Linked DNA regions of Homo sapiens. The protein of the gene in region 1 purifies or fractionates together with the protein of each later gene. This does not show direct contact. Each region holds a gene or a part of one and is shown on either strand. Other genes may lie near its edges.

Region 1 (3,656 bases):
GAGCCACCGTGCCCGGCCCAGCCTTTTTCCTTGAGCTACAGTTTGGGTAGTTTCTGTTGTCAGATATCATTTCTTCTGCAGTGCCTAACAGCTGTGAAGCCCATCCAGTTAACTTTGTTTCTAACATAATAGTTTCCCCTTATTTCTTCTCATGGTACTTGGGTTTTCTTTTACATCCTCGTGAGCAAATTGATAATGGTTTTAGGGTCTACGATTCTTCTCATACCATCTTCCCCATCATTTTGGGGTCTGTTTCGACTGACTAATTTTGTTTCCGGGTTTTGGCCTCATTTTCCTGCCTCTACATTTTTCACAAGTTTTTCTTGGTTGTTGGATATTGTCAGGTGTACACTTTTGAATGTCTGGATTTTGTTGTCTTTCTCTGAGGAGTTGGGTTGGGCTTGGCAGGCAGTTAAGGTGCAGATCATCCTTCCGAGGCTTTTTATGCTTTGAAGTGGTGGGTCTAGCATAGCCTTTCCGCCTCCCGCCACCGGCGTCCTTCCCAAGGCCTCTGCTGCACACCCGTGTGTCCCGCAAGGCCCGCGAGACCCCTGCACTCCTGCTGCTGCAAGATGACACCTTCTCGGCCCTGTGAGCTCCGCTCGTTGCTCCCTGGTAAGACGGCGGTTTCTCGGCCCTGTGAGCTCCGCTCGTTGCTCCCTGGTAGTTGCTCTTCTCTTGACCTTGAGGACTCCTGCCCTGCACCTGTGCACTGCCTGGTGCTCAGCCAGAGACTCGAGATTCCCTTGGGTTCCTAGAGCTCGTTCTGTCGGAGTAGCCCCCTCCTCTCTAGTTTCTGGCCCTCAGATTGCAGCCACCTCAGCCTCCTGAGCTCCAGCCACTGCCTTCTCCAGTCAGTGAGGCCACTGGCCCCAGCAGGTGTCTGGCCATTAGTGGGTGGGTGTTTGTAAAGTTTTCATGAATTTCTTGAACAATTGTGTGCAATGCAGAAAGTTCTCAGAGCTGACTTAAGGTGAGAGGAGCGTCCTGGCCTCCTCTGTCAGGCAGATCTGCCCTCTGGGTGCTTGAGGATTTTAAGTTCTGGCAGTGCCGGCCAGCACAGGCAGCCTGCAACTCCCAGAAACTGCATTCTGAGTCCTGCTGTAGGAACAAGCTGTTCTGCTGAGTGTCTTCTCTGTGCTGGAATGCTTTGGGGGACAAGGGACATCATGATAAGACAGACCTACTCTCACAGAATTTCTGTTTAATAGGAAAAGATACGAAATGTTATCAGATGAGCAGGCCTGCAGATCCTAGCACAACAAAGGGACTAAGGGAAGATGGTGTCCTGGAGCTGGCATGTTTGGGGAGGAATTTGCATCGGGTGGTTCTTTGGCAAAGATGGTCAGGAGGTGACACGGGACTGAGATCTGAACCAGGAGACTGAGGCAGCCGGTAGGAAAGTGCAAGGGGGAGCACTCCAGGCAGAGGCAACGGCAGGAGTGCAGAGGTCCTGGGGCAGGAAGGCGTGGGACGTGCTCTGGGAGCAGCATGGGGGCCGGAGGGTGGGAGTGCAGCCGCTGCGGTCGGGATTCTGCGTAGACGTGCGACAGCTGGTCAGTACTCCTTGGTGTCAGGGACCCAGGCTTACTCCATCCTGTGCTGCCGTGATGAGCTTCTCATCCTCATGGTCTAGTGTGGCTGCACCGGCTCTGGCCCTCATACCTCCCGGCAGGAAGCCTTCTTCTAGGTGAAGAAGAGCAAATCCCCACCTTTCAAGGACCCTCACTGCAAGTTGTCCCTGTGACTCCGTTTGTGTCCCATTGAGTACGACGCTTCCCTGCACAGGATGCTAGGACACGTTGTCTTTATTCCGCACACAGCTGAAATTTCTTACTGAGAAGAGGAAAGTTGCTGTTGAACAAAAACTAGCAACCTCAGCCAGTCAGTGACCGAGGGGCAGGGTAAGAAGAGATGAAGATGGAGGGGCAGCCCGAGGCCGGCTCCCAGAGCGCCGCGTGACCAGAGCGGACCCTGGAGTACCGTCAGTGCAGGAGGACGTGCATAGGAGAGATCAGAGCAGAGCGACTTGACCTTCAGAAGGTCCCTCCACAGAGGGAAGAGCAGAGTCTCTGGGCCGAAGAGTGGTGGGGAGGGTAATGCGGACCTGGCCCTCACTGTGTTGGGGAGGAAGCTAGTGCTGGGGAAGGAGGCTGGAGCGCTGCGGTCTGCCTGACGTTCTGGTAGCTTAGGGCTCATGTGGCAGTGCAGAGAGGGACTCGAGTGTCCCTGAGGTTCTGGCGGAACCTGGGTGCTGCCACTCATGTGACAGGAGGGCTGGAAGAGGCAGCGGGCAGAGTCCACGGCCCCATTTTGGAAGTAGTGAGGGTGAGAGGCCACTTAGGCTGCAGCTGAGGGGTGGAGCAGGCTGAGAGCTCAGAGGAGAAGCCACAGCTGGAGACCTCAGTGTAGGTTTCAACAGCAGAGAGCTGAGTTTGTAGAGATGGGAGCTGTGAGCTGGGCACGGTGGCTAACTCCTGTAATCCTAGCACTTTGGGAGGCCGAGGTGAGCAGATCACCTGAGGTCAGGAGTTCGAGAGCAGCCTGGTCAACATGGTGAAACCCTGTCTCTACTAAAAATAGAAAAATTAGCCAGGCATGGTGGCGCATGCCTGTAATCCCAGCTACTTGGGAAGCTGAGGCAGGAGAATCACTTGAGCCAGGAGGCAGAGGTTGTAGTGAGCCGAGATGGTGTCACTGCACTCCAGCCTGGGCGACAGAACGAGACTGTCTCAAAAAAAAAAAAAAGAAAGAAAGAAAGAAAAGAAATGCGAGCTGTGATTGGGTGGGTTCTGCAGGGACACCCTACGGCCCAGGTCATGTGGAGGTGTGTTCAGTAGTGTTTGCTTCCCTTCTGCCTGAATGCCTGGAGCCAGGACATGCGTCTGCCATGTCTCTCCTGACCACGTTGGCACAAGTGTTGGCTGGTCTCCTGGCTGTCGGGCTGCTTGATGCCACAGGACTTCTGCTAATCCCAAATCCCTGTTGGCTTTGCCCTGTTTCCCAGAGCGTGTCCCTGCGGTCTCCTTACGCACCTCTCAGATGTGCATTTCACCTTCGGCAGGCGGTTCCTCCTCTCTCCACAATGCTGGGAACAGGACTGTCTCTTGCACGCCTTTGGTCATTCATCAGGGTCAAAACTGGTCCCACAAACTCAGCACTGGCCGGAAGAGAGGCCCCAGGGGAGCAGCCACGCTGTTGGGAACACACAGCTCTGGGAGGCACGTGGTGGTGTGCACTTTTTGGCTGAGAGCACTGGTGGTGTTGCTCATTGGCTGTGACACCAGCTGTCACCGTGGAGGAGAGGTGAGGGCTGAGGGCACTCACAGCGTGGGACCACATGAACGGTGCCCTGTAGTGGAGGCTTTCATATGTGCACTTTCTCAAAATACTCGAGGCAAGCAGCATTCTTTGTAAAACAGTCCAGTTACAAATGTTGCTATTTACTATGAGTCCATGCTGCCGGGTCACCCAGAGGATTGAGACTTGGAATTCTGGCTGTGGGCTTTGCCTCCCCGGTACTGGGAGCTGCAGTGGAGACGCGCCGTCCAGGTTTAGGGAAGAGCTGATGTGGGCCTGGGAGGCGTGCGTGCTCAGGCAGCCCTAGGGCAGTCGTGAGGGTGTCAGGAGATGGCTTGTTCGTGTTCTGTTTCATA
Region 2 (3,656 bases), on another chromosome or scaffold:
TTTCCTGTTTAGGAAACAATGGAAGATATAGATAAGAATGCTGATGGTTTCATTGATCTAGAAGAGTATATTGGTAAGTCTCTGCTTTTAGTGTTTTTCTTAGAAAAGCTGAGAAGCTTTGAAAGGTGTATTTGCTGGCTGGGCACAGTGGCTCATGCCTGTAATCCCAACACTGGGAGGCCGAGGCGGGCAGATCACCTGAGGTCAGGAGTCCAAGTCCAGCCTGGCCAACATGGGGAAACCCCGTCTCTACTAAAAATACAAAAAAATTAGTTGGGTGTGGTGGCGGGCGCCTGTAATCCCAGCTACTCAGGAGGCTGAGGCAGAAGAATCGCTTGAACCCAGGAGGCGGAGGTTGCAGTGAGCCGAGAACACGCCATTGCACTCCAGCCTGGGCAACAAGAGTGAAACTGTCTCAAAAAAAGAAAGAAAGAAAGATGTATTTGCCCATAGAAACAATTTACTCCAAGGGTCAATTCTCACTAGCTCATTAGCTGTCACCAGATCATTAACCAGACCAGTGTGATAGTGGGTTGTGATAAAGTATCCGTAGCCACATTGCCCAATCAAAATATAAATGTGAGCCCCATATGTAATTTTAACTTTTCTAATAGCCACATTAAAAAGTAAAAAGAAACAGATGAAATTTCAGTAGTTATTTAACCTAATATTCTAAAACTCTATAATTTCCACTTAATGTAAATTATTGAGGGTTTTTTTTTAATACTTAAAGCACATCCCAGCCACATTTCAAGTGCTTAATAAGCACCTGTGGCTACCATCCTCAACAGCACAGATATAGTGTATCCTGCATGCTCTATGGAACTGATGGTAAAGAGTTGCAGGGGGCTGGGCACGGTGGCTCACGCCTGTAATCCCAGCACTTTGGGAGGCCGAGGCGGGCGGATCACAAGGTCAGGAGATCGAGACCATCCTGGCTAACACAGTGAAACCCTGTCTCTACTAAAAATACAAAAAATTAGCCGGGTGTAGTGGCAGGCGCCTGTAGTCCCAGCTACTGGGGACGCTGAGGCAGGAGAATGGCATGAACCCAGGAGGCAGAGCTTGCAGTAAGCTGAGATCATGCCACTGCACTCCAGCCGGGGCTACAGAGCGAGACTCCGTCTCAAACAAACAAACAAAAAAAAGAGTTGCAGGGAGCCCAGACTGACATAGGGAAACCCAGGGAAAGGAGATAGGGAATAGATTAAAAGATGGATAAATAAATGACGGGGAGTTGCTGATCCCTCTTGTAGCCATTCCTTTTTACTGTGTTCTGTTCATATTTTCTCTCTGATTCTCTGACTACTTTCCTTTTGTTTTTTAAGTTTCTCCCTTTTGACATTTCCCTTTTTAGTTGTCTAAATTTTTTTAAAAAAATTGTTTTGGATGTCACACCTTCAAGGCTAATTTCTCCCAAGTAAAGCTCTGTTTTATTATCATCAGACTAATTTTAAGATATTCTCATTGCTTTAAAAAAAAAAAGCTGTCTTTCTTACCAAGTAGTTGAGCAAATTGTTTCCCAATTACTGTGACAGAAATTAAAATGAGTAAAGGAGCTGGGTGTGGTGGCATACCCGGTTACTTGGGAGGCTGAGGCAGGAGGATCACTTGAGTCCAAGAGTCTGGACTATAGTCACAAGTTCATCATCAATATGGTGACCTCCTGGGAGCAGAGGATCACCAGGTTGCCTAAGGAGGAGTGAACCGGCCCGGGACAGAATCAGAGCAGGTCAAAACTGTGCTGATTAGTAGTGAGGTTGTGCCTGTGGATAGCAATTGTACTCCAACCTGAGCAACATAGCGAGACTCCATCTCTTTAGAAAAGTGAGTAAAGATGGAAAGTATAAGACTGTTACTACAAATGTCATTGTTACAAATACTTTGTTTAGAAAGATATTAGATATTTTAATATTTCACATACTTATTGTCATTTGTAATAACTTATTCTAGCACACCATTGGTTTTGTGTTTCAGATAAGCCCGTTTGTTTTTAGACCTCTGATAGTTACCTGAAATGTTTATTTGAAGCCTGAAAGGAAGACTTAATCCTTACCTCTATCACCTGTCATTAAACTGTATGGAGCAAGTCACTGCTTTACTTAGATGTTGTCTTATCATACCTGTTGTTTACATGCTAGAGTTATTCCAATTGAATTACTCCTTGACTGTTTACCTCCCTTTTCTTAGGTTCAGTGGCATACTTTGAACTTTTTAAAGAAGGATGAGCAATGGAAGATAGGATGGATGTTTTCCTAAACTGATTTTTTTTTTTTTTGGAGAAGTTTATCAGGACAGTGGATAAGTGCCTAGGTGCATTTACTGAGCCCACGTTGATGTTACTAGGGTTTTCTACTTTTAAATGATTTATCTTTTTATTCTTGGCTTTTGCCATTTTATTGCCATTGCTAAAACTGAGGAACTCATTTGAACCTCCCAAGGAGAGGAATTTTTATAACTGTTAACTACATCACTTATCAAGCATTGAGGCCAAATAAGGAGATATTTCTGTCTCCCTGTGTATCATATAGATTCAAGGGCAGAGGAGTTATATTTTGAAGCTACCAAAACTATCTTGTGCATGTGTGCTTTTTTTTTTTTTTTTTACAAGTCAGTAACTAATGCAAACACTTTTACATCTGGGATGCTGGGCTTTGTAAATCTAAAATTCTCCCAAACAGTATCTTTCAGCTTCTAGTGCCCTGTTGAAGGAGATCATGAAGAAACAAAGTTCTTCGCCTCATAAATTTAGCATTAAAAAGAAGCCCCATCAGTGCCTGTGGAAACATAGGGAAAGAAAAAAAAAAACACCCAAAGTTGTGCTGATAATTATTTTTATTTTTAAAATTTATTATAGAGCATTGCAGACGTACACAACTTATTTGTTTATTTATTTATGTTTTTTTTGAGACAGTCTTGCTCTGTCACCCAGGCTGGAGTGCAGTGGCGTGATCTCCACTCACTACAATCTCTGCCTCCCAGGTTCAGGCGATTCTTGTGCCTCAGCCTCCTGAGTAGTTGGGATTACAGGCATGCACCACCACACCTGGCTAATTTTTGTATTTTTAATAGAGGCGGGGTTTCACCATGTTGGCCAGGGTGATCTTGAACTCCTGGCCTCAAGTGATCTGACCACCTTAGCCTCCCAAAGTGCTGGGATTACAAGTGTGAGCCACTGCACCTGCCCCCAAATTAGAATAGTATAATGAATCCCCATGTACCTATGCCTAACCTCAACAACAATCAACTTACAGCCAGTTTTTTCTCAGCCACATCCACTTCCTTGCTTCCTTCTTACTTTGAAGTAAATCCCAATCATTATGTCATTTCATCTGTAAACATTGAGGTATATATGTCTAAAATATATATGTGTTTCTAAAAACATTTTTTTAAAGATAATGTCAACCCAAGAAAATTAATAATACCTTCAAATCATCAAATAGACTGAGTCTTTTAAAAATAGAAATTCGGCCGAGCATGGTGGCTCATGCCTGTAATCCCAACACTTTGGGAGGCTGAGGTGGGCGGATCACAAGGTCAGGAGTTAGACACCAGCCTGACCAACCTGGTGAAACCCCGTCTCTACTAAAAATATAAAAATTAGCCAGGTGTGGTGGCATGTGCCTGTGTAATCCCAGCTACTCAGGAGGCTGAGG

Evidence for each region. The genes of interacting proteins can lie anywhere in the genome.
Region 2: the proteins of GTSE1 (region 1) and CALU purify together in Homo sapiens (affinity purification with mass spectrometry; one large-scale study listed by BioGRID and IntAct). This does not show direct contact.

The regions. Positions count from the first base shown.
Region 1 is NC_000022.11:46,317,249-46,320,904, forward strand, and holds part of GTSE1 (G2 and S phase-expressed protein 1), read left to right. Parts: exon of another isoform or gene 1-615; intron 616-3,656. UniProt on the Homo sapiens protein: May be involved in p53-induced cell cycle arrest in G2/M phase by interfering with microtubule rearrangements that are required to enter mitosis. Overexpression delays G2/M phase progression.
Region 2 is NC_000007.14:128,759,780-128,763,435, forward strand, and holds part of CALU (calumenin isoform a precursor), read left to right. Parts: intron 1-12; coding exon 13-73; intron 74-3,656. UniProt on the Homo sapiens protein: Involved in regulation of vitamin K-dependent carboxylation of multiple N-terminal glutamate residues. Seems to inhibit gamma-carboxylase GGCX. Binds 7 calcium ions with a low affinity.